Linked DNA regions of Homo sapiens: regions 1, 2, 3, 4, 6 and 7 are each reported to be linked to region 5. The links are microRNA targets in miRTarBase. Many come from high-throughput screens and were not tested one by one. Region 5 holds a microRNA gene; each other region holds the end of a gene's coding sequence.

What was found. Region 5 holds the annotated microRNA hsa-miR-4279 (CUCUCCUCCCGGCUUC, at 2,285-2,300, shown strand). A microRNA usually pairs through its seed, bases 2 to 8, with sites in the 3' UTR of a target mRNA and lowers its output. Matches are read on the target gene's strand: a 7mer-m8 pairs with bases 2 to 8, a 7mer-A1 pairs with bases 2 to 7 and ends in A, and an 8mer does both.
Region 1: miRTarBase lists GJD3 as a target of hsa-miR-4279. Seed matches in the 3' UTR shown: 7mer-m8 at 1,439-1,445 and 7mer-A1 at 1,673-1,679.
Region 2: the mRNA of GMEB1 is a reported target of hsa-miR-4279. Seed matches in the 3' UTR shown: 7mer-A1 at 1,226-1,232 and 7mer-A1 at 1,723-1,729.
Region 3: miRTarBase lists NLRP10 as a target of hsa-miR-4279. Seed matches in the 3' UTR shown: 7mer-A1 at 2,888-2,894 and 7mer-A1 at 2,475-2,481.
Region 4: the mRNA of CENPI is a reported target of hsa-miR-4279. Seed matches in the 3' UTR shown: 7mer-A1 at 1,522-1,528 and 8mer at 3,282-3,289.
Region 6: miRTarBase lists TXK as a target of hsa-miR-4279. Seed matches in the 3' UTR shown: 7mer-m8 at 1,447-1,453.
Region 7: the mRNA of IL17RD is a reported target of hsa-miR-4279. Seed matches in the 3' UTR shown: 8mer at 1,927-1,934.

What each region holds. Positions count from the first base shown.
Region 1 is chr17:40,359,360-40,363,436 of GRCh38, reverse strand. It overlaps GJD3 (gap junction protein delta 3), which reads left to right. Exons shown (of 1, transcript NM_152219.4): 1 at 1-2,785. The coding sequence ends at 506. It overlaps GJD3-AS1 (GJD3 antisense RNA 1), which reads right to left and starts at 592. Exons shown (of 1, transcript NR_186704.1): 1 at 1-592. RefSeq lists silencers at 249-358, 389-468, 589-658 and an enhancer at 486-780.
Region 2 is chr1:28,714,283-28,718,361 of GRCh38, forward strand. GMEB1 (glucocorticoid modulatory element binding protein 1) reads left to right here. Exons shown (of 10, transcript NM_001319674.2): 10 at 1-4,079. The coding sequence ends at 491. Among named protein-coding and RNA genes, the nearest start is that of YTHDF2, 21 kb to the right of the region's middle.
Region 3 is chr11:7,956,181-7,960,259 of GRCh38, forward strand. It overlaps NLRP10 (NLR family pyrin domain containing 10), which reads right to left. Exons shown (of 3, transcript NM_001391958.1): 3 at 1,357-4,079. The coding sequence ends at 3,464. Among named protein-coding and RNA genes, the nearest start is that of NLRP10, 7.2 kb to the right of the region's middle.
Region 4 is chrX:101,162,420-101,166,419 of GRCh38, forward strand. It overlaps CENPI (centromere protein I), which reads left to right. Exons shown (of 22, transcript NM_001386188.2): 22 at 414-3,707. The coding sequence ends at 548. Among named protein-coding and RNA genes, the nearest start is that of DRP2, 55 kb to the right of the region's middle.
Region 5 is chr5:31,934,333-31,938,411 of GRCh38, reverse strand. MIR4279 (microRNA 4279) reads left to right here and starts at 2,253; the gene lies at 2,253-2,310. The region is part of intron 2 of PDZD2 (PDZ domain containing 2); the gene reads right to left.
Region 6 is chr4:48,064,183-48,068,261 of GRCh38, reverse strand. TXK (TXK tyrosine kinase) reads left to right here. Exons shown (of 15, transcript NM_003328.3): 15 at 557-1,869. The coding sequence ends at 625. Among named protein-coding and RNA genes, the nearest start is that of NIPAL1, 49 kb to the right of the region's middle. RefSeq lists an enhancer at 3,792-3,841.
Region 7 is chr3:57,092,559-57,096,637 of GRCh38, forward strand. IL17RD (interleukin 17 receptor D) reads right to left here. Exons shown (of 13, transcript NM_017563.5): 13 at 1-3,947. The coding sequence ends at 3,835. Among named protein-coding and RNA genes, the nearest start is that of SPATA12, 34 kb to the left of the region's middle.

The DNA.
Region 1 (4,077 bases), not on the chromosome of region 5:
TGCGCGCCCGCCGCGCGCGCCGCTGCTACCTGCTGAGCGTGGCGCTGCGCCTGCTGGCCGAGCTGACCTTCCTGGGCGGCCAGGCGCTGCTCTACGGCTTCCGCGTGGCCCCGCACTTCGCGTGCGCCGGTCCGCCCTGCCCGCACACGGTCGACTGCTTCGTGAGCCGGCCCACCGAGAAGACCGTCTTCGTGCTCTTCTATTTCGCGGTGGGGCTGCTGTCGGCGCTGCTCAGCGTAGCCGAGCTGGGCCACCTGCTCTGGAAGGGCCGCCCGCGCGCCGGGGAGCGTGACAACCGCTGCAACCGTGCACACGAAGAGGCGCAGAAGCTGCTCCCGCCGCCGCCGCCGCCACCTCCGCCACCGGCCCTGCCCTCCCGGCGCCCCGGCCCCGAGCCGTGCGCCCCGCCGGCCTATGCGCACCCGGCGCCGGCCAGCCTCCGCGAGTGCGGCAGCGGCCGCGGCAAGGCGTCACCGGCCACCGGCCGCCGAGATCTGGCCATCTAGGGGCGGGCACCGCCTCGCGCGGACTGGACGGCGAGGGCCGGACCCCGCCACCTCCGCCCGCACCGCAGAAGCCGGAAGCTGCTTCCACCAGAGCTGTCGCGGGACCTGCCCCGGCAGGAGACGCGTTGTGGGGACGGCCCGCGGGCGGCATCGCACTTGCCTCGTACTGCCTCCCAGTGGCTGCCGGCGGCACCTGGGGCAGGCCGGGCTGGGGGCGGAGAATGAACTCAGGCAGGTCCTGGATGCCACCACCCAGGTGGAAAGGAAGGAGACCAGGACCCTGAGAGAGAGTGGACCCGAGGGGGAGAACAGAGCGGAAGGTGGAGAGTGGTTGTTTTACTGGGGACAAAAACAACTGTGATGCCAGCATTCTCAGGCACTCTCTGTGTTCAGAGAGAGAGTGGTCCCCCTGTGGGCTCTCTGCGAGTGTGCATACACGGACACATAAGCACTGTGAGCTGTGTGCACGCGCACCTGTACACCCTGTGTGAGCGCTGTGCATGTGCGCGCATGTGTACACCCTGCGTGAGGCCCACTTGTGCACACAGACACACGTAACCCTCCCGGGTGAGCTGTGTGCACATGCACACAGAAACATATGCCCCTTGAGAGCTGTGTACTCACATCCCTGTGAGCTTTGTGTGAGTGCATTGTGCACACACGCACATGTCCATTCTGTGTGGGCTGCGTGTGCACACCTGTACACAGAAACATCCTTGTGCGCTATGTGTGCATGTGTACATCCGGCGTGACCTCTGTGTGTGCACGCGTGTGTGTGTGATCTCTGATATGCACTGCGGGGGTGGCCAGGATCCGATGCCAGCTGCAGCCACAATGGCTCCCTCCCTACCACCCTAACCCAGCCCACCTGCCAGGGCATCACAGGAGGTCTGTCCCCCCCTCCCAAGAGACCCCGCCCAGGGAGGGAAGAGGAGGAGAGGCTCCCTTTCCCCGGGCAGGCCTCAATCCTCGGGAGCCTATGAGCAACATCCTCACAGTACCCCTTGTGGCGAGGCGGGGGCTGGGCGCTTTCATGGAGGTGGGGTGGGGGTGGGCGGCGGGCCAGAGGGCAACCCAGACGTGTGTTATGCCTCCCTCCTCCATCTTCATCCTCCCCGCCGCTACTGCTCCCCCAGGCTATAAACGGGAAAGTCCCTTCTGTCCTCAGGAGAAAGCTCCCAAAACACACGCGCTCCCGGCCCTGCCTTCCCTTCCAACCACCCCCTTCTTCCTACTTGCGGGCATTCGAAGAGCTGCTGCCTATGCAGCGCATCCCCCTCCTGTGTCTCCCCTCCCGTCTGCCCTCCCCCTTCACCAGCCAGTGGGCTGCTCTCCATAAGATCACCCAGGACCTAAGCGAGAAATCCAGGGGCCGTCATCGGACTGCACCTTGCGGGCCTCACCGCATCCTGCCTACCAGGCTGTGCGTTCCCCGCCATCACCCCACCCTGTCCTTCTGAGTTCCTGGCGTCTTTCTCAGCTCTCCTGTGCCCCACACAGCAGTGGGAGGTGTTTCTGAATAGCGCCCCCCACTTAAACCCGGGACTGAGGGCAGCACCCCTGCCCTCAGGGTGAGTCAAGCGCCTTCACAAAGCTTCCTTCTGAAGCCCTGCCCCTGTCAGGCCTTCGACTCCACAGCACCGGCTTCCAGGTGTGCTCAGAACCATAGGGAATTTTCTCTTCTAACAAGCACCAGACCTGCTTGCTGCCAAGCGTTTGAACGTGCTGTTCCTTTGCCCAGAGTAGCCGCTGCTTCCTGCAGCCTTCTCCTCCCCTAGCTAATGCCCACCCACCTATTGTTGTCACTTGGGAAGAAAACAGACACCTTCAAGGAGAGGGCTCCCCTGGTAGCCCCCACCCCAAGACAGAGCTGGATGCCCCTCGCTTCCGTAGGGAAAGCACTTCTCCTGCAGGATGGCATTGCTCTCTCCCCTTCCATGGCACGTAGTATGTGCTCAGTAAATATGTGTTGGATGAGAAACTGAAGGTGTCCCCAGGCCTACACCACTGCCATGCCCGAACACTATCCATGCTATGGTGGGCACCATCTCTCTGATGACAGTTCTGTGTCCACAACCCAGACCCCTCCACACAAACCCAGATGGGGCTGTGCCGCTGTTTTCCAGATGTATTCATTCAACAAATATTTGTAGGGTACCTACTGTGTGTCAGAAGATGTTCAAGATCAGCATCATCCGATGGAAATAGCATATGAGCCATGTATGTAGTTTCAAGTTTTTCATTAGCCACATTAAAAAAGTAAAAGGAAACAAATGAAATTAATTTTAGTCACGTATTTTATTTAACCTAGCACACCCAAAGTATTTTCATCTTAATGCCTCATTGATATTAAAAAGTATTAAGGAGATAGTTTACATTCTTTTTTTCATACTAAGTCTTCCAAATCTGCACCCACCTAGCCAATTCTTTCCTCTAGAGATTTAGCAATGAGCCTCGGCTACAGCGGGAGACTCCGTCTCAAAATAAATAAAACTAAATTAAAAAGAGATTTAGCTGAGAGAGGCCACCTCTTCCAGGAAGGCTTCTGAGCCCTGCCCCAAGCGTGATTCAGTGCCTCTGCCCTGCACTCCCGTAGGCCTGTCAAGCCTGTTGCAGCTCTGCCCAGGTGGCATCCCGGTCACCTTCCTCTGGCTCAGTCTCTCTGCGGAGGATGGGCCCTGGCTCAGTGCAAAGCACATCAGCCCTGGAGGACCACACTCCACAGCAGTGGATCTCACATGGGGGTGATTTTGCCCCCCAGGGGGGCGTTTAGCAGTGTCTGGAGACATATTTGGTTGTTACAGCTGGGGTGGGAGAGAAGCACCACTAGGGTTTCATGGGCGGAAGGTTGGAGATGTTGCTTAGCATCCTGCAATGCACAGGACAGCCCCCACAACCTGGCTCAGATCTTCACATTGGTGCTGAAGCTGAGCAACTCTGCTCGACAGCAGTGAACTGTGGACCACTGAGGACAACCCCAAGACTAGAGGTTCCAAACAGCAAAGGCACTACCCCAAGGGGCATTTTGTAAATGTGGGGGCCACTGCTTTGTTTTCACAATGATGGGGGACCCCATTGGCATTTAGTGGGCAAGGGCTATGGACGTCAAGATATCCTCTTGAAATAAAAACCTGCTTGGCACAACTTTTTTGTTTTTATTTTTATTCTTTGAGACAGGGTCTCCATCTGTTGCCCAGACTAGAGTGCAGTGGTGTTATCACGGCTCACTGCAGCCTCAACCTCCAGGGATCCAGCAACTCTCCCACCTGAGCCCCCCCCCCAAGTAGCTGACACCACAGATGCACACTACAAGGCTAGGCTAATTTTTGTATTTTTTTTTGTAGAGGCAGGGTTTCACCATGTTGCCCAGGCTGGTCTTGAACTCCTGGACTCAAGTGATCCGTCAGCCTCTGCCTCCCAAAGTTCTGAGATTACAGGCTTGCGCCACTGCGCCCAGCCTCAGGCACAACTTTAGAATGTCCAACTGGACATTGGCATAAGTGAAAACCCTGGGCCCAAACCCTGTTTTACATGTAAAACATTAAGGGTTTTGAGGCCAGGCACGGTGGCT
Region 2 (4,079 bases), not on the chromosome of region 5:
CCCCAGTGGGTCAGTCATTTTCCATGGGCAATATTCCAGTGGCCACCCTCAGCCAGGGCTCCAGTCCTGTGACTGTCCACACACTGCCTTCTGGCCCTCAGCTCTTCCGCTATGCCACAGTGGTCTCCTCTGCCAAGAGCAGCTCACCAGACACAGTGACCATCCACCCTTCATCTAGCTTGGCGCTGCTGAGCTCTACTGCCATGCAGGATGGGAGTACACTGGGCAACATGACCACCATGGTTAGCCCTGTGGAATTGGTGGCCATGGAGTCCGGCCTAACCTCGGCAATTCAGGCTGTTGAAAGCACCTCAGAGGATGGGCAGACCATCATTGAGATTGATCCAGCCCCGGACCCAGAAGCTGAAGATACTGAGGGCAAAGCAGTCATCTTGGAGACAGAGCTGAGGACTGAGGAGAAAGTTGTGGCTGAGATGGAAGAACACCAGCATCAAGTTCACAATGTGGAGATTGTGGTCTTAGAGGATTAACTGGGGATCTCAGGGCCAGGAGTTATGTTTTGATTTGGAATTTTAATTATTTGTTTATTTTTATCATTGTCCCACTCATTTCCACATAGGACCCTTTTTTAAAAAAAAAAAAACAAAATCTTATTGTTGTAACTGAAAATGTTGGGTTCTTCCCACTCCCTCATTGAAAAATGGACAAAACAAGCTGCCCTTCCAGAAGTTGAGAGTAGGTCATTCAATGTCCTAATCATCTTACACCAAGAAAGTAATTTCTTTTAGGGGAAGTGTCAAGATAACAAGTAACCCTGTCCAGAAAGCCATTTCCAGGCTCGTCTGTGTGTGTAGGCATGTGGTTTTATTCTTGTAAAGATGCATTGACCAAACTCTGGAACACAGATCTGACACTGGAAGGCAACCCACTCGCATGTGGATGCTGAAGGGCACTTTATTTTGTATCCTGAAAAGGGCCTACAGAGGCCAGTACAAAACTCTCAAACAAAAGGAAGTTGACTCTGCTTTGAGGGGAAGGTGGCATGCCAGCACTAGCTTAAAAAGGGAAGTGCTAGCCGGGCGTGGTGGCTCACGCCTGCAATCCCAGCACTTTGGGAGGCCGAGGCGGGTGGATCACGAGGTCAGGAGTTTGAGACCAGCCTGGCCAACATGGTGAAACCCCGTATCTACTAAAAATACGAAAAAAAAATTAGCCGGGTGTGGTGGCGGGAGCCTGTAATCCCAGCTATTCAGGAGGCCAAGGCAGGAGAATCGCTTGAACCTGGGAAGGCAGAGGTTGCAGTGAGCCAAGATCGCACCACTGCACTCCAGCCTGGGCAACAAGAGCGAGACTCCATCTCAAAAAAAAAAAAAAAAAAAAGTGCTTTGGCAAGTATGGGGCAGGGAAATCATCTTACTTCCAGAGGTGCAACTGACGCCTCTGGAGATCTCCAAAAGTTAGTACCGTGAGTGCCATTTTGAGAAGAAGGTGGTAATAAGTGGAAGGTACATCTCCACAGAGCAAGTGGCAGCAGTGGCCTGTGGTTTTGCAGAAATGGAAAGCCAAGGCCGGGTGCGGTGGCTCATGCCTGTAATCCCAGCACTTTGGGAGGCCGAGGTGGGTGAATCACCTGAGGTCAGGAGTTTGAGGCCAGCCTGGCCAACATGGTGAAACCCCGTCTCTACTGAAAATACAAAAAAAAAAAATTAGCTGGGCATGGTGGCACGCGCCTGTAATCCCAGCTACTTGGGAGGCTGAGGCAGGAGAATTGCTTGAACCTGGGAGGCGGAGGTTGCAGTGAGCTGAGATCATGCCATTGCACTCTAGCCTGGGCGAGGAGTGAAACTCCGTCTCAAAAAAAAAGAAAGAAATGGAAAGCCAAGGATGCTGCAGCTGTGCTTTGGGGTTCAAGGTAATAGCTTACCTTGTTCCACACTTTGTCAAAGCACTCACCCTCCTAAGCTAGGACCAGTCCATTCATTTGAAACTGTGCAATGTGATGTAAATGGCTCTGGTTCTTAGACTGTGGCTGTCACAGGGATGGGGCTCCAAGGCCATCATTTTCATTGCATGGCTCCAAGAGCAGGGAGTTCCTCAATGAAACCAGCTGCCTTTTTTGGTGGGGCCATTTTTTTGGCTTTGGAACCCAAAGCAGCCACTCATTTGGTGCTTCCTCTTGTTCTGCCCTCCATCCCTCAACTCTTAATGGCATCTGTCTCCTAGAACCCACGCTCTTCAGCTTTTTGGCTGATTTGGAGAACAGTGACAGGTGCCTGCCTGCCTTCGTCCCCTTTTAGATTCATTTATACCACAGATGTTTCTGTGAGATACTGAGATCATAAAAAGCTTTAGGCTTGGCAGAGAGGACTCAACACCCCCAGGCTTTCCTGAGGCACCAACTAGATGTCTCTTGAGTGAGCTGGACTCCCTGGGAAAGAAGCATTGTCTGCAACATTATATTATAGGAAATGTACCAGGAATGTCAATAATAATGCTTTGGGGGGGGGGGTTATTTTGTTTTGTTTTGTTTTTAATGTTGTTTGTATATTTAGAGCTGGGCCATTTTCCGTGCTGCGATTTCTTCTCTTTGACCCTCTTCAGTGTTTGGGGCAAGAGTGGACCCTGGTTTTTATTTCTTTGATTGCATTGTTTACTGCACTAGGAAAAATATAGAGATACAGGGAAACTACAGACAAATTTAAGGAAAAATAGGTCAAAAAAGAAAGCACACACCTTAAGAGTGGGAGGAATATTTTTATTAAAAACAAAACTTGGACCTGTAGTTTTTTTTTTTCTTTTTTATTTTTAAGAAGGCACCTTTCAGAAGCCATGTTTCTTCCAACAGATGTTGGAAACCCCATCGAGCAAGTAAAAGTTGCATTCTCCATCCCTCAGATGGCTGTATGTAGTCAAAGAAACCCTGTAACATGGTAAGGTTGCTGTTTTTTTTTTTTTTTTCTTTTTGAGATGGAGTCTTGCTCTGTAGCCCAGGCTGGAGTGCAATGGTGTGATCTCAGCTCACTGCAACCTCCGCCTCCTTGGTTCAAGTGATTCTCCTGCCTCAGCCTCCTGAGTAGCTGGGATTACAGGCTCCCACCACCACGCCCGGGTAATTTTTGTATTTTTAGTAGAGACGGGGTTTTGCCATGTTGGCCAGGCTGGTCTTGAACTCCTGACCTCAAGCGATCCGCCCGCCTTGGCCTCCCAAAGTGTTGGGATTACAGGCATGAGCCACCGCACCCAGCCTGAAGGTGACTCTTAAGAATGAGATTTATGAACTCCATACAGTTGTAGATTTCAGTTTTTAAATAGTCTGGGGTTTTATTTTTCTTTTCAAAATATCTAATAGACTTAGCAATCAATTTAGAACAAATATTTGGCCCTTAATATATCTTTAGTGAGGGAAGTAGCTTTTATTTCCTGCTTGTTTAGGTTTTCTGTTGGTACATAAAAACAAAATTGCTGTCTCAGACTGAATCTACTTGAATCTAGGAAGGCACATCTCATCCCTATTGTGGTTTTTAGGGACACTTTTCTCTTTCCCAGAGATGAGAGGACCAATTCAGGACAGAAGAGCCCTCGTGAATACCAACGTGCTAGCTCAGGTTCCCTTCTTTCCTCCATCAGAGCTATTGGTAGGGTTTTAAGGTCGTGTGTGCATCATGCTTCCAATGTCAAGAGATTTCCTCAAACAGCCTGTTTACTAGATGAATTTTCCAGCTGGTGAAATACATGAGCTTTGTTGTTTTCCTGGTCTTCCAATAGCCTGTCATTATTGTTAGATATTATGGCACCTGTTGTTGAATGTAGGTTCCCTTACAGCCCTGGTCTAGATGATCCTAGATGGGGTGAGACATATGCAAGCCATTGGTATGTGCATAAGCAGTTGCAATGAACCTTAGGCTGACTTGGTAGTAGGCATTTGTCTTTCTGTTCATGCATTGAATAAACATTTTTAAGAACCATCTATGTGCCAGGCTTTGTGCTAGGCACTGACAGTAGAGAGATGAAGACATAGTCCTTGCACTTAAGGAATTCATACTCCAGATGTCTGGAGTTAAGAAATACATATTTCAGCCAGGCATGGTGGCTCACACCTAGAATCCCAGCACTTTCAG
Region 3 (4,079 bases), not on the chromosome of region 5:
AAAATAAGTTAAAGGTACAGTGATTAGAAATGAAGAAATTAAACTGTCATTATTTGCAGACAACATAATGTGTCAATATAAGGTCCAAAAAGTCTGCTCTTAAGCTATTAAAAAATAAGTAAATTTGGGGAAATGACAATATAGAAGATCAATGTACTAAAAAAATTTGATAAAAAGCTAATTGTAAAAACAATTAGAAAATAAAAATTTAAGTATCGCACTTAGAATTGTATTAAATACCATCGAAAGATATGAACTACAAAATATTGCTGTGAGACATCAAATGTATATAAAAAGTAGAGCTATATACAACCAATGTACATGGATTAGAAGGATCAATATTATAAAATTGTCAGTCCTCCCAAATTTGATCTATAGATTGCATGCAATTTCAATCAAAACCCAAAAATCCTAATGTTTTTCTTATAAATTGACAAACTGCTTCTAATATTTAAGTGTAGATGCAAAGGACATAAAATAGCCACAAAAATCCAGAAGAAAAGTTGTTGTTCTTCCACTACCAGGTGGCAAGACTTATTACAAAGCTACCATAATAAAAACTGCATGGTATTTGCCATGAGAATCTACAAATAGATCAATGGAAAAGAATAGAGAGATCAGAAGAGACTTATGTACACTTGATTTATGATGAAGGTGATACTGCAGAATTGTGGAGAAAGGTTGATCTCTTGAATAAATAGTATTAGACCACCTGATTATCACTACTGGGAAAAAATAAAACTTTATCTATCTCACATCATACATCAAAATTAATTCCTAGTGGTTTACCAGACTAAATATGTTAAGTAAAGCAATAAACTTTCTGGAAGTTTATATAGGAGATTATTTTATATTCTCAGGATAGAAAATGTCTTAAACAGAAAATAAAGTTATTAATCATAAAAGAAAAAATGAGTAAATTAAGAACTCATTTATCAAAAGGCATCAAGAGACTGAAAAAACAAGCCAAAAAAATAAGAAGAGATATGTGTAACACATATTAACTGATAAATGACCTAAAACCCAGAATATTTTTAATATCCTATATATCAGTAAAGTTAACCATATTTTTATTAACTAAAGTCCATACTTAATTCAGATTTTCTTAGTTTTTCAAGAGCAATTTTAGGTTTAAAGAAAAATTGAGTGGAAAGTACAGAATTCCCACATATAGTCAACAATACTGTATTATGTGCTTAAAAATTTATAAGAGGGTAAATTTTGTGTTGTGTTTTTAACACACACAAAAAGATAAAAGGACACGGGAACATTTTTGGGGGGATTGTTATGTCTTCTACCTTGATTGTAGTGATGGTTTCACAGATGTATGTGTATGTACAAATTCATCAAATTTTATATATTAAATATGCACAGTTTATTGTATTAAACTAATTATACTTCAATAAAACTTTTTTTAAATACAGAAAGTTCCTATATACCCTCTCCACCACCACCACCCCCTCACAAAGTTTCTCTTATTAACATCTTGCATTAGTGTGACACATTTGTGATCATTGATGAACCAATTTTGATACACTATTATTAACTACAAGGCACAGTTTACATTAGGATTCACTCTTTGTATTGTACAGCTCTATGCGTTTTGAAAAATTTATGTCATGACTCCATCATTATAATATCACACAGAATAGTTTTACTATCCTAAAGTGCCTGTGCCTCCACCTGGTTATCTCTCCCTGACTCTCCTTGAACCCCTGACAACCACTGATTTTTAATTGTCTCCATAGTTTTTCATTTTTCATAAGAGCATATATTTGGAATTACACAGTATGTAGCCTTTTCAGACTGACTTCTTTCACTTAGTAGTTGCATTTAAGGCTTCTCCATATCTTTTCATGTCTTAATTGCTCATTTATTTTTATCACTGAATACTATTACATTATGTGGATGTATCACAGTTTGCTTATCCATCACCTATTGAAGGACATCTTGGTTGCTTCCAAATTTGGGCAATTACGAATAAAGCTGCTATAAATATTCATGTGCAGGTTTTTATGTGGACATAAGTTTCCAACTCACTTGGGTTAATATCTAGGAGCATAATTGCTAGATCTTACATATAGTAAAACTATGTTTAGCTTTGTAAGAAACTGCCAAACTGTCTTTCAAAGTGGCTGTACCATTTTGCATTCTGACCAGCAATGAATAAGGCTCCCACTACTCCACATCCTAACAAGCATTTAGTGTTGCCAGGATTTGGGATGTTAGCCATTCTAACAGGGGTGTCATGGTATCTTATTGTGGTTTTAGTTTGCAATTCCCTAATGACATATGAAGTTGAGCGTCTTTTCAAATATTTATTTGCCATCTGTGTATCTTCTTTAATAAGCTGTCTGTTCCAATCTTTTTACTCACCTTTTTTTTTTTGAGGCAGAGTCTCACTCTGTTGCCAGGCTGGAGTGCAGTGGTGCGATCTCAGCTCACTGCAACCTCCGCCTCCCAGATTCAAGCAATTCTCCTGCCTCAGCCTCCTGAGTAGCTGGGACTACAGGTGTGCACCACCACGCCCGGCTAACTTTCGTATTTTTAGTAAAGACGGGGTTTCACCACATTGGCCAGGATGGTCTCGGTCTCTTGACCTCGTGATCCACCAGCCTGGGCCTCCTACTCACTTTTTAAGTAGACTCTTTACTTATTATTGAGTTTTAAGAGCTATTTGTATTTTTTTTTACCCAAGTCTTTTATCAGATATGTGTTTGCAAATATTTTCTCCCAGTCTTTGGCTTATCTTTTCATTCTCTTAACAGTGTCTTTCACAGAGCATAAGTTTTTAATTTTCATGAAGCCAACTAATTCTTTTTTTAATGATTCATGCTTTTGCTGTTATATCTAAAAAGTCATCGCCAAACCCAAGGTCACCTAGATTTTCTCCTATATTATCTTCTAGCAGTTTATATTAGTACTTTTGTATTTTACATCTAGATTCATTTTTTTACATGTGGATGTCCAGTTATTTCAGCACCATTTGTTGAAAAGAGTAAACTTTCTCCATTAAATTGCTTTTGCTCCTTTGTCTAAGATCAATTGACCATTTTTGTGTAGGTTTGTTTCTGGTTCTCTATTCTACTCCACTGATTTCTCTATTATTTTAACAATACCATACTGTCTTGATTACTGTAGCTTTATAGTAGGAAGAAGTTGGATAGCAGCACTCCTCCAACTTTGTTCTTCTTCAATATTTTATTGGCTATTCTGAGTCTTTTGCCTTTGCACATAAACATTAGAATCATCTTATCAATGTCCACAAAGTTATTTGCTGGGATCTTGATTGGGATTGCATTGAATCTACAGATCAAACTGGGGAAAACTAACATCTTAACAATATTGAGTCTTTCTATTCATGAACATGGAAAATCTTCCCATTCATTTACAGCTTCTTTGATTTCTTTCCTCAGAGTGTTGTCATTTTCCTCATAGAGATCTTGTACATATTTAATTAGGTTTATATGTAAGTATTTTTTGGTGTTTCCTCTGTCCCTCTGCCTTTTCCAGTAGAAGCTTCCTTTTGTGTTCCTGCTATATTATCTTTGCCCTCCTTCTGTCCATGGACAGAAGGACATTTTTGCTCCTCCTTAGGTCCATGACTCAAGCTGCTTTTGACAGAAAATAAATTCTGGCTCTGTGATTTCTTTTCATTTGAATGTTTTATCTTGAATGATACATTGTTCATCTGAATACCTTTTACCAGATTCTTTATTTTAGCTTCATACAGGGAGAATTCCAAATCCCAGGTCCTGTTGTGCTTCATAGATTCCATCTGTTCTTTAAAATGCTTCAGATCCTGCGCTAAACAGGGAGAAATTCTGAAGCAGAACTTGAGCTCCAAGTTCGAGAAGCTGTCTTTTTTCGAGATGTCCAGTAAAAACTGCATAGTGAGGGTCATCTCATCATTCCCTTCCTGCTCCTTTACCTCCAGCAGCCTTTGCACTTCTCTGCGGGACTCCTTCCCCAGCCGGCTTTGGTCCTCTTTCACCAGGTAAGACATGGCATGAAAAAAGTCCTGGAAGCTGATGTGGCGGAAGCTGTAGAACTTCTTGATGGCAAGTCCCAATTGGTAG
Region 4 (4,000 bases), not on the chromosome of region 5:
CCAGCTTGGGCAACAAACAGAGCAAAACCGTATCTCAAAAAAAAAAAAAAAAAAATATATATATATATATATAATTATCTCATTATCAAAAACTGCTATTTACACATTTAATATAGGCAGTAATATAATAATATCTGCTCCTATGTTATCTCCTAGAGTGTGAGAATGATGACACATTTCCATTGCACAGTACTTAAATTTTTTTGCCAACATAATAAAATGGACGTTTAGCCCTTGGAATTGGGTACTTTCTGGTTTAAATGTTACTTAGTGACTGAGCTCATTTCCCCCCCGAACTAATTTTGATATGTGCATGCGGGATGCTGCAAACTCTTCCTAGGGAAAGAGGAGGAAATAGAGAAAAAGCATAGTAAAATATTCGATAAGTAATTTTCCTTTTTCTGTGCCTGCAGGGAAAGAAATGGAGCTGGTATTTGGACTATTTATTTTCACAGGGGTTACAAGGCTTGAAACTTTTTATAAGAAGTAGTGTTCATCATTCTTCCATTCCCAGAGCAGAGGGCATAAACTGCAACAATCAATATTAAATGAATGTTGACATAAACTGAACACACTGGACTAAACTCACTCCTCATTGCTAGAGCAAAGTGGCTCATCTTGAGTTCCCATTTTCATTTCACTGACAGACTGCCATCCTCAAGGAGTACTCAGACTGGCCTTCTGTTCATGGCTTAGGAGAGCCTTGGTGTGCCTAACTGATTTTTCAAAATTTAGATTTTTTTAGCCTACCAGTGAAAAATGACCCCTTCATCATCAGGCTCTGCGTTCTACCAAATTGTATGTAAAAAGACACATCTGTTTTGTGGTAGGATTTTTTCACATTTTTGGGTACTATGAGCTGCATTGATGGAAGACAGCAGGCAATATGTGGTGACAGTTAACTCACAGACATAAACATGCAAAATACTTTGCTGTCTCTGGGGATATTGCCATTTTTCTTACTGTGAGCAACAGCACCAACACCAAGTTAACAGGATGCAACATGTGTATGACTCTAAAAGCCCTAAGTAGTTGGTAACTTCCTGGGCCTTCAATCATAGCAATTTGATGAGGGAAGGAAGGGGAGAGGATTTGTTGGGTAATCAAGACATTCCCGTATATGTCTGATTTCATGGAACTGCTCTATTTTGTTTGTGTGTATTGTATATGTATATGTGTATGTGTGCGTGTATGTGTGTGTCTGTAGCTTCAGTTTTTAAGTGTAAGGACTAAATAAACTAACTGAAATTTTACTTTCAGAAGGAATTCTGAAGTTTTAAAAAAGTTAATAATAGCTAGAATATCTTGCTGAAAATGTACTATAAAATTTTGCCTGCTGGGCGTGGTGGCTCACGCCTGTAATCCCAGCACTTTGGGAGGCCAAGGTGGGTGGATCATGAGGTCAGGAGTTCGAGATGAGGCTGGCCAATATGGTAAAACCCTGTCTCTACTAAAAATACAAAAAATTGGCCGGGCATGCCGGCACGTGCCTGTAGTCCCAGCTACTCAGGAGGCTGGGGCAGGAGAATCGCTTGAACCCGGGAGGCGGAGGTTGCAGTGAGCCAAGATCGCGCCACTGCACTCCAGCGAGACTCTGTCTCAAAAAAAAAAAAAAAAATTACCTCAATGCTATTGAATAATTCTCCCTTCTAGTAAAATTCGTATCATTTGAGAAGAATCAAGCTGAATTAATTTTTGTCTTTAAGGATGCATACTTGGGGTTCTTTTTTTTCCCCATTTAAAAAACAAACCCTAAACTATATTATTGGATGGCGTTCAGACTAGAAATCCCACTCGTCCATTGACTCATTAATTGATTCAATAAATATTTATTGAGCTCCTTTCTCTGTGCCAGGTACTCTTCTGTGTGCTGGTTATACAGTTGTGACCAATACAAAGTACCCGGGTTTTTGTTTTTGTTTTTGTTTTTTGAGATGGAGTCTCACTCTGTTGCCCAGGCTGGAGTGCAGAGGCATGATCTTGGCTCACTGCAACCTCTACTTTCTGGTTCAAGCAATTCTCCTGCCTCAGCCTCACGAATAGCTGGGATTACAGGCACCTACCACCACGCCCAGCCAATTTTTGTATTTTTAGTAGAGACAGGGTTCCGTCATGTTGACCAGGCTGGACTTGAACTCTTGATCTCAAGTGATCAACCCGCCTTGGCCTCCCAAAGTGTTGGGATTAGAGGTGTGAGCCATTGCACCCAGCCCAAAGTACCTGTTTTTATGGAGTTTACATTCCAATGGAGAAGACAGACAATAACATATATCAAATGCTATAAAGAAAGGGCAGGGAATAGGGATACAATGTGTTGAATTTTGTCAAATGCTTTTTTTGTATCTTTTGAGATTATCATATGGCTTTTGTCCTTCATTCTGTTAACATGATATATCACATTTACTGATTTGTGTATACTGAATCATCTTTGCATCCCGGGATGAATCCCACTGGGACAGAATGTGGAGAGGGTTGAAACTTTAGATAAGATGGTTTGGGAAAGCCTGTTTGAAGAGATGACATATGCAGAGGCCCCAGTGAAGTAAGCATATGAGTCATATAAATATTTGGGGAAAGAGCATTCTGGACAAAGGTAAAAAACAAGTGAAAAGGCCCTAAAATGTTAACTTACTTGGCATGTTTGAGGAATAACAAAGAGGCCAGTAAGGTTACAGCATAGTGATTAAGAGAGAAGAATGGTAAGAAGTGACATAAGGAAGAAAGCCAGGTCCTTATAGCCTGGCATGGATATGTAAATGGGAAGCAATTAGATTGAGAAGAGGAGTGACATAATTTGATTTACCTTTATGAAATATGGAGCTACAATGTCAAGGTTAGACTGAAGAAGATTAAAGAGGAAAGCAGAGACTGGTTAGGTTATTATAGTGTCCTAGGTAACAGTTTTGGACAAGTGTGATAAATGTTGAGGTGGGAGGGGTTAGAGGTTGGATTCAGACTCTGTTTTGTAAGTAGAGAAGATAATGTCTGCTGATAGCTTGGATATGAGGAGGAAAAGGAGAGGAGTAAAGGATGACTCAGATTTTTGACCTGTCAATTGGGTGAACTCTGAGATTAAATTCTGTTTTGGCTATGTTAGGTTGGAAATGCTGTGTAGGCAATTGGATATCCAAGTCTGGACTTCAGAGTACAATTTGGGACTAGAAAATTAATTTGGGAGTCATTAGGGAATAACCATGACTTTGGATGAGATCACCTAGTACAGCTAGAGAAGAGAAGGTAGCAAAAGACAGAGACCTAAGGTATGCCAGCATTGAGAAGTAGAGGAGAAGAGGAACCAGCAAAAGACTGAGAAGGACCCACCAGTGACCTAGAAGAAAAATCAGGAGGCTGGTATTCTGGAAGCCATCAGAAGAAAATGTTTCACAAAAGGAAGGTAGTATTGAATGGTGTGAAATGTTACCTATATACCTGGAAAAAAGCAACTTCAGCTGCTTTTTAAGTAAATGTGATAGTTTGTACTGCAAATAACTTTCCATATTGCTTTTCAGATCATGATATTTTGGTCCTTAAGATCATGTAGAACTTTCCATTGTGAGAAGGGAGTTGATTATTTTATCATTAAAGAAACTTTTCTAAACTTAAATTTATGAAAAATAATTTTTCCCTTAGGTTTGTCTTTTTGTTCAATAATGATTCCCTGGGTATCTTTTTTTGCCCCACAAATAAAATACTTAGACATACCTGGATACCTTTTTTTGTGCCTATTTCTCTTTTAACTTTTTTTTTTTCTTCTTGAGACGGAGTCTCACTCTGTCACCAGGGTGGAGTGCAGCGGCCTGATCTCAGCTCACTGCAACCTCTGCCTCCCGGATTCAAGCGATTCTCCTGCCTCAGCCTCCCGAGTAGCTGGGACTACAGGCACATGCCACCATGCCCAGCTAATTTTTGTATTTTTGGTAGAGATGGGGTTTCATCATGTTGGCCAGGATGGTCTTGATCTCTTGACCTCGGGATCCACCCGTCTCGGCCTCCCGAAGTG
Region 5 (4,079 bases):
GGGACCCTGCAGAAAAGCTTCAACTTCCTAACTCCTGAATCTACCCATTTGGAGGCGATGGCACCAATACAGACTAAGAAACTAAAATCAGTTTCCCAAACAAGAGCCCATTCAAATTGCTGAGGGCTTAACTTGCTGCATCAACCCACTGATCACATTATTCACCAATGATATTAAAAAATCAACAGGTCAAGGTGGAGTGCTGGGAGCAGTGGCTCACACCTGTAATCCTAGCACTTTGGGAGGCCGAGGTGGGCAGATCACTTGAGGTCAAAAGTTTGACACCAATCTGGCCAACAGAGTGAAACTCTGTCTCTAAATGGGGGCGGAAATCAACAGACCAACCAGCAAACCAGCAAATGTTTTTTTCTAAAGATCGGATAGGCTTTGTGGGTCACTATCTCTGTCCTATATTCTTCTTTGTTTCTTCAACTCTTCAAAACATAAAACACATTCTTAGCTCCCAGGCCATACAAAAACAGGCTAGGGCAGTCTGGATTTGCCTAAGGGCCATAGCTTGCTGAACACCGCTTCCAGCAGGAACCCTGGGAAGGAACCTGTCCCCAACACAGCTTCTAAGTCACTGCAGATAGCACCTGGGACAGATCAGTCTGAAGGATGGGAGACAAAGGGGACACACACAACAGGTGAACAGTAGGCAAGAAAGGACAAGAGTTGGGGTGGCGACGGTAGGAACATGGGGTGAAAAAGTTTTCTAAAAGACCACAGGAGGTGCCGTTCCTCCTCCCATAGAAGGCTAGCTGTGTAATGCTGAGAAATCACACGGAAAGAGAGACTAGCAATGATGTGTGGGCTTGCTTGACTAAACACAGCCATCCCCCAGCCCTCCAGGACTAAAATGCAAAGCCACAAAACGTGGCCACCACGGCATGAGGATGACCACAGCATGAGGATGCCAGCCAGGCAGTAAGCAGTAACCCAAGCAGCTCCCAATTTTGCCTTTTCAGACACACCCCTGTGGCTACGGGGCATTCTCCAAACCTCAACGCAAACAGTTCCAGGATTCAGGCTGGGCTATTCTACCGAAACAAAATTCTCCACCTACCTCTGACGTTCTTCTCAGGCTGACCACACGCACCATTTCTATCCAACCTCCTCCATGTTAGCCCAATCCCCCAACACCCTGGCCACTTCATTAGTGAGGGAAAACATGTCAGATCATCCCAGTGCCCAGGAGAAGCAAGGCCTAGAAATGATTCAGAACCTGGGGCTGGAGATGATCTTTATTCTGTTCTACTTCTCTTATCACAAGCCCCAAACCTTGACAACGGAAGGAACACCCTGAGACTCGGCTACAATCATGGGAATCAAAAATCAGTTTTAAAATTATCCTTGCATGTGGCTGCCACCCATGGTCCTCCCCATTTATTTTCTACTTCTGAGTGTGAAACGTCACTGTGACAGTTTCCAACCCTCTGCACTCCCCCCACTCCATGACAAATATTCAGGATTCACACTTCACTTTCACACTGCTTTCCAATCCCTTGACTTAGAAGCCGAGCAGAGGCAGCCTGCCTTAATGGAGAAAACATTAGTGCATTCGGGCTTCACTCTGGATCCCAGTCAATTTCTGGATATTTCACAGCTGTTATACATCCACCTCCTTTCTTACAAAAGCCAGCAAAAATTAGTGAGCACCTCGTTGGCTCTGAAATATGAAAATGGAGCCACAGTCAAGCCTGAAAATCGGTTTCTGGTTGACTCCCTTCAAAGTATTTGTTCTAAAACACAGTGTCTGCAGTTCATTTATCATCTGCCAATTTTTAAATGAGTTTAAATTAAAAAAGCTTCAATGCTGCATGCTTTTTTTCTTTTTTTTTTTTTAAAGCAACTCTCAGAATAAAACTGTCATTTGGTCATCACACTAGTAACTGAGAGAACTCTTGCTTGGGCAGATATCAGCACAATTCAAGCTGAGTCTTTTATGTTATTATTACCTGCTCATCTCTCATATAATTAAAAAATAATAAACCCTTGGAAGACCTGTAAGTTGTGTTCAGAGAGAAAATGTGATTCTCTTCACCACTCAGGTCTCCCGTCCTACCTGCTTTATGAGCTGGTCAGGTGAGCGTGCTCTGCTGTGCTTCAGCAGCCTCTGGAATGGGACAGACTCCAAAGTTGGTTGTGCTTCACTTCCCTTCTCCATTCAGGTCTTTAAAGTCCTGGGTTATTAACTATCAACAAAAATACAAGCTGCGCCATGCGTGCTCCAACTTCCTGCCAGCTCCCCATGCTCTGTGGAGCTGAGGAGCAGATTCTCTCTCTCTCCTCCCGGCTTCACCTCCTGAGCTCCAGAGCCCCACCCACCCACAGCACTCAGATCATTTTTCATTTATGAATGCATCCAGCCACGCTGTGTTTGTAAGAGAAGGAGCCAATCCTTGCCCTGCCAGTGTATTGGAACCAGGCTGCTATAAACGGTTCTAATTTTCCAGGAGTATGGGGGGAAATCATATCCCAGCAGACATCATGCATGGCTTCCTCCTGCAGGTATCTGCAGATCAGCTCTTCCATCACCAAAGGACGCACACTTGGCCACGGACCACAGCTGCTTCATTCTACAGACTGCCAGGGAGGAGGACTGAAGATTTCAGGCAGGAGAAAACCAAAATACTATCAAAATGTGTACTTCACATAACTAAAAATGTGAAGCTAGGATGATCAGTGAAGAAACTTTCCACTCAGTGACCTGATATTTCACAATACATTTAATCTGTCTTGCACTTATTAAAGGGCCAGATTTTTTTTTAAATTGCATCCAAATGCAAACAAAAATCAAGGGGTTAAATTATTTTATAAAGAAGTCTGTTGGGAAATAAAAGCCATTTGTCTTGATGACACCAAATTTACAACTTTTCTACTCCGACTAAGCTTCCAACTTCCATTGTAGACAAGTACTAGCAAAACCAGAAATTATCAGTCAGCCCTTGAGTTGCTGAAAAAATCCTCAACTTTTAAACACAATATGATTTTTCTAAGGTTTTATCAGGAAATAGAATGTTAAAAAATAGGCTTCCCTAAACCAACACACATATATAGTAGTTTCTATTATGGGTAAAATTTGCCTTGTTTTACAGCTGAAGCCAAAGGGGTCTTTCATGATCCAACAGCCAGAGACAAAGATTCCAAAAACCTTTGGTGCAGGTATAAAAATGTACATGTGCAACTTAAATGGGAATGACATTTTATTATTCCAATACTCACAAGGTCCTTTGTTAGCTATACTTGTAAGGAACAAAATAGGAGCAAACATCCTCTGTTTACTTCTTGCAGCCATTCTATTTTCTTTCTTTTTTTTTTTTTGAGACAGGGTCTGGCTCTGTTGCCCAGGTGGGAGTGCAGTGGAGTAATCTCGGCCCACTGCAACCTCCATCTTCCGGGTTCAAGAGATTCTCCTGCCTCAACCTCCTGGAGTAGCTGGGATTACAGGCGCCCGCCACCATGCCCAGATATTTTTTGTATTTTTAGTAGAGATGGGGTTTCACCATGTTGGTCAAGCTGGTCTCAAACTCCTGGTCTCAAGTGATCTGCCCATCTCGGCCTCCCAAAGTTCTGGGATTACAGGTGTGAGCCACCACTGCTGGCCAGATTTTTGGTGTTTTTTAGTATATTCATTTATTTTAGAGTTTTATCCAGTATAAATTTTTCCCCTAGGAGCCTTGTATTGACATAACCTAGTTCCAGTCACAGTGAGACATTTTTGAAATTGCTTCTAAATTTTCCATGTATTAAAAAACTGGTGGTCTAGTATCCGGACTTAAGTCTTTTTTTTTTTTTTTTTTTAATTAGATGGTTCAAATGTCTCCTAAACAGAAAATGCTATACATTTTCTCATGTGCTCCAAATGGATTCTAGCCATCCCAATACCCTAACACATTCTTGAAAACAAAAACAGGATCCGCCTTTTACTGATGAGATAAAGAAGACAGAAAGTCACTAGTATATATGATGTTTCCCTGGTGCGGCAGAGAAAGAACTAATGGGAGGATTAGTTCCTAGTCTCCAAACACCAGCAGGGAGCCCCAGGCAAGTCCACATTTTTTGTGTGCATTCAAGAG
Region 6 (4,079 bases), not on the chromosome of region 5:
TATCTCTAGGGTCGTGGTGTCCTAGAGTACTTTCTGAGATGCTGAAACGTTCTATATCTGTGCTGCCCAATATGGCAGCCACTTCTGGCTATTGGGTTCTTGAAAAGTGGCTAGCACGACTGAGTAACTGAATTTAAACATTTATATAATCTTAAGGAATTTAAATTTAAATAGCCACATGTGGCTAGTGTTTGCAGGTCTAGCCGTTTTATTTTTGCAACATTCTCTAACATTTTCATATTCACGCCTCACTCAACTGCCAATCATGCTGTGCTATGTCAGTCAGTCAAGATATCTTTCTCTTCCTTTTTGTGAAGAGCCAGCCTGGATTCAGGTCTCTGCCAGCAAGTTCCAGAGCTGGTCTCTGAGTGATCCTTAGCCTATTTATGCCGCAGGTGGCAATTTTTTGAATTTTTGCATGAGTGAAAAATCAGACCTTGGCGATGACCTCGAGCAGTGGGATATAAGTGACTCCCACATGCTTAGCGTTCCAAAAATGGAACCCTTGGCATAAGTTGGTTAAGCTGAGCTAACCACCCCCACTTCCCTTTTCCAGAAACCTGAAGGCCGCCCTACATTTGCCGAGCTGCTGCGGGCTGTCACAGAGATTGCGGAAACCTGGTGACCGGAAACAGAATGCCAACCCAAAGAGTCATCTTGCAAAACTGTCATTTATTGTGAATATCTTCACCATATGGGGTCACTTATGGTGAATATCTTTCTTCAGAGTTGCTGACTCTTGAAAACAGTGCAAAGATCACAGTTTTTAAAAGTTTTAAAAATTTAAGAATATTCACACAATCGTTTTTCTATGTGTGAGAGGGATTTGCACACTCTTATTTTTCTGTAAAATATTTCACATCCCAAATGTGAAGAAGTGAAAAAGACTTCGCAGCAGTCTTCATTGTGGTGCTCTTCATGATCATAGCCCCAGGAACCCTTGAGGTTCTTCTTCACAAGGCTGAGAGTGCTTCCTTCTTGAAGACGAGTGACATTCATCACTTCAGTGATCCATGCATAGAATATGAAAATAAATTCTTCCAACTCATGGGATAAAGGGGACTCCCTTGAAGAATTTCATGTTTTTGGGCTGTATAGCTCTTTACAGAAAATGCACCTTTATAAATCACATGAATGTTAGTATTCTGGAAATGTCTTTTGTTAATATAATCTTCCCATGTTATTTAACAAATTGTTTTTGCACATATCTGATTATATTGAAAGCAGTTTTTTGCATTCGAGTTTTAAACACTGTTATAAAATGTAGCCAAAGCTCACCTTTGAACAGATCCCGGTGACATTCTATTTCCAGGAAAATCCGGAACCTGATTTTAGTTCTGTGATTTTACACTTTTTACATGTGAGATTGGACAGTTTCAGAGGCCTTATTTTGTCATACTAAGTGTCTCCTGTAATTTTCAGGAAGATGATTTGTTCTTTCCAGAAGAGGAGACAAAAGCAAGATAGCCAAATGTGACATCAAGCTCCATTGTTTCGGAAATCCAGGATTTTGAATTCGAGATGAAACAACCAGCAATCACAGTTAAATCTTAACTTTGCCTGCACTCTTTGTAGGAATGATCAGAAATTTATCTTTATCATTCTGAGTGCTTCAGGAGTACAATAGGAAGAAAGATACTGGAGAAAGCACTAATGTAATCACCATGAAGTCTGACAACAGGAGCCCATTATTTGCGTACTGTCCCACCCTGTATCATGGTTCTCTGGGAACAAGCTTTATGATTCTCATTAGAGTTTATTTGTTGATTGTCAGTAGTTGCGACTTTTAAATTATATTTCCCCCACTCAAAGAATGGTATCTTTATATATCAATGACATTCAATAAATGTGTATTATTTCTAATGAGAATCAGTTACAAGAGGAGACTTGATAGTTCAAGTAGTGGTCTCAGAAATGTTTGGGCTGAATGTGGTGGCTCATGCCTATAATCCCAGCACTTTGGGAGGCCAAGGTGGGAAGATAACTTGAGCCCAGTTTGAGACCAGCCTGGGCAACAAAGTGAGATCCTATCTCTATTACAAGAAAAAAGAAAAAAGAAAAAAAAAGCTAGGTGTAGTGGTGCATGCATGCACGTAGTCCCAGCTACTTGGGAGGCTGAGACAGGAGCCCAGGAGATCAAGGCTGCAGTGAGCCATGATTGTGCCACTGCACTCCAGCCTGGGTGATAGAGCGAGACCCTGTCTCAAAAACAGAAACAAGTTTGTATGAGATGCTAGGCTGTTTCTGAGACTATCACACCCCCTTTCCTATGACTCCTGTTACGGTGAGGAAAGACAGAAGGCTGTTATTACTGAGACCTCAATTCACATAACATGAATTTACATAAGATAGTCTAGCTCAAGAAGACATGAGACTACTAAACAGCAAAAGCAGATGGAAGGGAGGTTAATATTATGACATAGGAAATAATGTAGTATCAATATATGGCTGCAGTAAGTTGCCCTTTCCAGGTTTTACTCAGCTTGGAAGTCCCCATTTCTCTCAAAAAGAAAGAAAGAAAAAACCCAGCAAAGCCAAACACTGAAAAGCTAGGACTGAGTATGGAGCATCTGCCATCACTATAGTTGTACCAGGTACAGAGCAAAGAGTGACACCCAGAGGCAAATCATTCTAAGAGGGCAACAACTATGACAGTGCCTGGCACTTCTAAGAGGGTGCAGCACTTCTAAGGTGCTAGGCAAGCTCTATTCCTTTTGTTTTAACACCTCGGGAAAATTTGAGGTACCAAATTAGGTACAAGAATAACTGGGGGTATGTCCTAGGTAACTAAGAGTCCAGATAATGTGTGAATTTTGAATGTGCGTGGAAAGAGATTTACCATTCTTTGTCTAACTAAACAAAAAAGTTTCCTTAAGAGGTAGTCAGCCAGGCACAATGGCTCATGCCTGTAATCCAGCACTTTGGGAGGCCGAGGCGGGTGGATCATCTGAGGTCAGGAGTTAGAGATCAGCCTGGCCAACATGGTGAAACCCTGTCTCTACTAAAAATACGAAAAGTTAGCCAGGCGTGGTGGCACGTGCCTGTAATCCCAGCTACTCGGGAGGCTGAGGCAGGAGAATTGCTTGAACCCAGGAGGTGGAAGTTGCGGTGAGCTGAGACTGTGCTACTGCCCTCTATCCTGGGTGACAGAGTGAGACTCTGTCAAAAAAAAAAGAGATAGTTATACAAGTTCTCCTGGAAAGGAACTATGTTTTGCAACCAATCTTAATATTAGTTATTGATATGAGGGTTCTCTGGGTCATTTGAGGTGAGATAGTGCAATATTTAAACAGCTCTGCATAAAAAAATGAATAGGAGGTTTAGGGGTCAATTGTAGAGTCCTAAAAAGGAGAATATAGGAGGTCAACAGACAGCGAGGAGGCTCAGAAAAATGGAAGGAATTTGGAGGCCAAGCGGAATATATAATCAGTGAAAATAACCTTTTGGCAAGAATAGATAAAGGAATTTAGTAAACTTTTTATTGAAGTGCAATACATGGTACCACCATGGTATTGGGAACATGTTTGGACTGGCAAGCAAACTGATGAGATACAATAGCATTTAGCCTAGCACTAAATTTGCTTAGCTTTATAGTAGGATACAGGACAGGAAATTAAGCATGCATGATGCTTGGGTCCCTCCTCACCTGCCTAAAGAGCGTGCATGAGCTTGTGGTATTTGGATGAGGTTGTGGTATGTGGGGGTTTGCCTTGATGCAAAGAAGCTTCTATGTGGGTTTCCCACCAGTCATATAGGCCTACGGTTCACAGGTCTCCCAGCCCCATGTACTGTCCCATAGATTGTAGGTTTCACAGTGCACAAAATGGATGTCTGTCCCTGGTACCCAATATTCCAAATTTATCTTAATTTGGGTCATTTACAAGAAACTCGTGCTGGGATAAGACAAACCTAAAATTTCCCAAGCAGGCATAGTTCTGGGAGAAAAATGGTACAGACCTGCTATTAACTCTTTGCTCACACATACATAAAGAAAAGTACACAAATCATGAGTATGTAACATCATTGATATTGGCAAAGTGAATACATCTCTGTAACCAGACTCAGATCAAGAAATGATA
Region 7 (4,079 bases), not on the chromosome of region 5:
AGCCTGGGCAACAGAGCAAGACTCCATCTCAAAAAAAAAAAAATGAAATTGTTCCCAGCATTTTTTAAATTGAGAGAGCATAAATCTGATTCTGAAATTAACAACTGGCTTGCCTTTCTTTTAAGACACTGTGAAATGTAAAGACGCAATCAAGACATGTCCAGTGCATTCAGAATCACGTCAAATTTCTTTGCGGGGGAGACTGGAGAAAGAAGCAATCTAACTACTGGCTGCATTTAGCAAGAGCATTTTCTGGTGGCACCGTCTGTAATTACCATGAATGCCTTTCCTTCAAATCTTATAAAGCACAGGTTAACAAACTGGTAGTCAGTGGACCAAATCAGGTCCATCCATGTCTTCTGCTGGGTCTAAATTCACTTGAATTTTAACTTAGTTGCCAATATTTTTTAAAATCAGAATTTTTCATATAAAAATCCAGATTGTCAGCTTTTCTTGAAAAATGGGAAGATCAGGAAGTACTTCATGGCCACAGTCGACTGGAAAATTACCCACTGTGGGTGGAACAGGGGCGCTTCAGTTTGCCACAGTCCCCACCATTCCCTATTGCTGACACAGACAAAGTATATTAATTACCATTTATCATCACACTGCTGTTTTCCTTATACCTCACCTGCTATACTGGTGACCACTGAAGGTATAAGATCTGCTAAATAAGAGCAGTAGTAGTCTTCACCAATAGAAAATAAAAAAGACTAGTAACCTTCACATTGGCATTGCCCATTTCTCTTCAATAAAGACAGAAATAATATTTTCTCTCTTCTTCAGGGAGCCAAATTAGTGTTGAAGTTGGGGGGCCAGAGAGTTTTCTTTCTTTTGGGAGAAGGGTGTGTCATTTTTCCTCAAGGAATAAAATTGGTCCTCTTGCCCCTTATTTCTTTTAAAAGAAAAGATGCTCAACTCTGAAAAAAAGGCTCTGAAAATCATGTAACCCCACATTTTTTGAAGGACAGTCTTCCTGCTTATTTGCACTCAAGATACTATTATTTGCTCAAGATACTATTATCTGGCTGGGTCACCATCTGAATACCTGGGCCTGGACTGGAATGACTTCTGACTCTTTCTGGAGATCAATTGCCTCAAAGGCCCAAGACAGCCCTCTGGAGGAGCTTTGGCACCTTGTATGGCTGGGCTGAGTCTGTTGAGGTGGTCTCTGTTGAGGTGGTCTCTGTTGCTTGTAGCCAATCTCTGAGAAGGCACACCTTTACCTGAGCTTTAACCTCCTTGATCACTCTCCTGGCAAAGCTGATGACATCAGATGCTAAGTCCTTTCTGTAGCTCATTGGTAAGTTAAGATGAACAACTAGCACTCTACCTTCAGCTACCCGCAGGCTTCTTGGTTTTCCTGGAAACCTGGACTTATCCCTGGTCTCTTTTCTAGAGGACGTTGTCTAACCTATCTACACAAGCCTTTTACTCTCAGGATCAAGGCCTCTCATGGAGATCATCCTGTTTTCCATTTCTTGTTTCCATAATATCTAAAAGCCTGTGACTTGGCAGAACGTTTTTCTGAATTTCATCTTATATCCACCGTCTGGGACAATTTCTGAGTCAAAAAATGCAGCTTTGCTTAAAACAGATGTTTTGCCGTAATCTGCAGGGCAACGATTCCCATTTCTAGCATACTGGGGAGAGTAGAAAAAGTGAAACTAATTAAACAAAACTAGGAAGTTGGACTTCTCAATTTATTCTGAGGCAATCACACTATGGTTTCATTACTCGGTATATTAAGAGTTTGATTTTATTGATCAGAAACATTAGTATTTCAACATAAGTATCAAAACCCTAAATCCAAACTAAAACATCCCGATTTTTTAACTAGCACTCTCTTTTTCTCTTCCATTTTCTTAAGGAGTGAGTTCACATAGCAAGCTCTCTGCCCACACACCCTTGGAGCTCAGTTAATGCTTCTCCTCCCAGTCCTCCATTCTCTCCCTGGGGCCACTTTCTCAGAGATGCCTTATTTCATGAACAAAGCTGAATACCCTAAAAGCGACTCCTAATGGTTCCTCTGGGACAGGAAACATCTCTTGGCCTCAATAAGAAATCTCTCATCATGTTCCAAGTGAATTTTCGTATGTTAGCAAGTTTGGACTAACCAATCTCCTTCACAGAATGCCTAGGATGAAATGGCGGGGCAGTCATGTGTGGGTAGGAGCTCTGCACTCATTCCAGATTCCATAGGAACAACATAAAATGACTCTTCTCTGAGTTGCCTGTTGTTATGGGGAGGCAGTCTTGCAGCTCACTGTCTCTCCCTCAGAGCAGCTGCAAGAAACTTGATGCCAGAGAACAGACGAGCACGTTCTTTTCCCAAAAAGCTGCCAGCTGCCTTTACAGAGCAGTGAGTATGACATTTGCATCAGAAATATACACAAACCTTTTCTTTCCAGCAGGGGTGCAAGCCCCCCTTTCCCCACCTGCCATGCATGTGCTTGGAAGGGAAAGTCCTGCCCCATCCCACCTCCCACCTTGCCTCAGGATGTTTCTCAACATACCCCTTCATGTTGGTCTTATCTGACGAAGAAGTGAAAACCACATTCCCTGGGCTGAATGCTGAGAAAACGGGTGCCAAAATCTAACAGCACCCATGAGAAAGGTAGTGAGAGATGTACACACCTGCTCTAAGGCACAGGGAGAAGGGTTTCCACAGGGGAGACCAAGACAGCATTCATTACACACATGCTAATCATCAGATGGGATGTGAACAATTGTTTTTTCTTTAGAAATAGAAACTCTGTAGAAAGTCATTCATAAAAATGGAACATTTACTTTTGTGACTATCACCTCCATTCTACCATCTTAAAAAGAGGTTTGTCATTAGTCAAAACCAGTTCAGCAGATTAACTGGCCATCACCTCCACACACTGCTGTATTTCAGTGAATTGTGATCCCTAATATTCAGGACACAGCTTTAGACCAGAAGGCCAACCAAAGCACGAACTGCAACTTCCAATAATACAGACCAGCTGGGTAGCAGTCTCTTAAGAATAAACTTCCAGACACCAACATCTGAGATACAGCACAGTAAATGTAACCCATGGAAACAGCAGGCAGATCTGGCCCCCACATGATGCCTACTCAGACCAAGAGGAGGCTGTGTGTGCTGAGGTCCTGGGGCCTTCTGCACGATGACCAACCTATCTCAAGTGGAACGGTCAAGACGGTCAGCCTGGCCCCGTGAGCTTCACCTCAATCAGTCATGCCACCCAGTAACACAGAGACTCATTTCATAAAAGGTGACTGTATATTCAGTCACTTTCTTGACTTTTGACTCAAAGCTTATTTAACACCCATGGCAATGTAAATTCTACATCAAAAATAAATGAGAACATTATCTGCAATACAACATGGATTCCAGATAGACTGGCACTTGATTTCTGTGGCTATGATGTTAAAAGTGCCTTTTTTCACAAAGCATTTCAAATCAAGGTAGCCAATAGCAAACAGGCAAAGTTTGCAGAGCTCAATGAAGTCTGAATGATTAGTGCAGGTATCTTCCTGTTTTTCTTTACATATTTCCTCCCTACCTCCCACAACAGGCTCTGATCCAAGGACTAACCAAATTTGGCAAGCTGTTGTCAGACCTTATGGACATGCCTTTCAGAGCTCCATATCATTTTAGAAAATTGGAGAGTTTGTCAAGATATCCGGTAAAGGGTTGGGGCAAGGGAGAACAAGTACTGGCCAGCATTTCACTCCAAATATCCTTGTATGAGACCTCAGCTCCAAGTGGGCCATGCAACCAGGGAGATGAGCTGGGGAATCAGAGGGAGGCAGCAGCTAAAGTGGCAATGCTTAGACTCTTTCGTTTTGTTACAAAGGGGCGACCGCGTGGAGTTCATCAGTGTAGCTGCGGCAACCAAGATCTGCTTTGCATGACCCAGAAGAGAGGAGCTTGGAAGGAAGGGCAGGAGGTTCCTCCTCACCTAAGGAGAGAAGAGAGTACAGAGTCACACTGTCATTGCATTTCACTGGGCTGGGCAGGTGCTCATGGCAGAATGTGACTGGATCTGGGTTTGGACTATGGGCTCTGTATAAACGAGGCAAGAATCCCAACC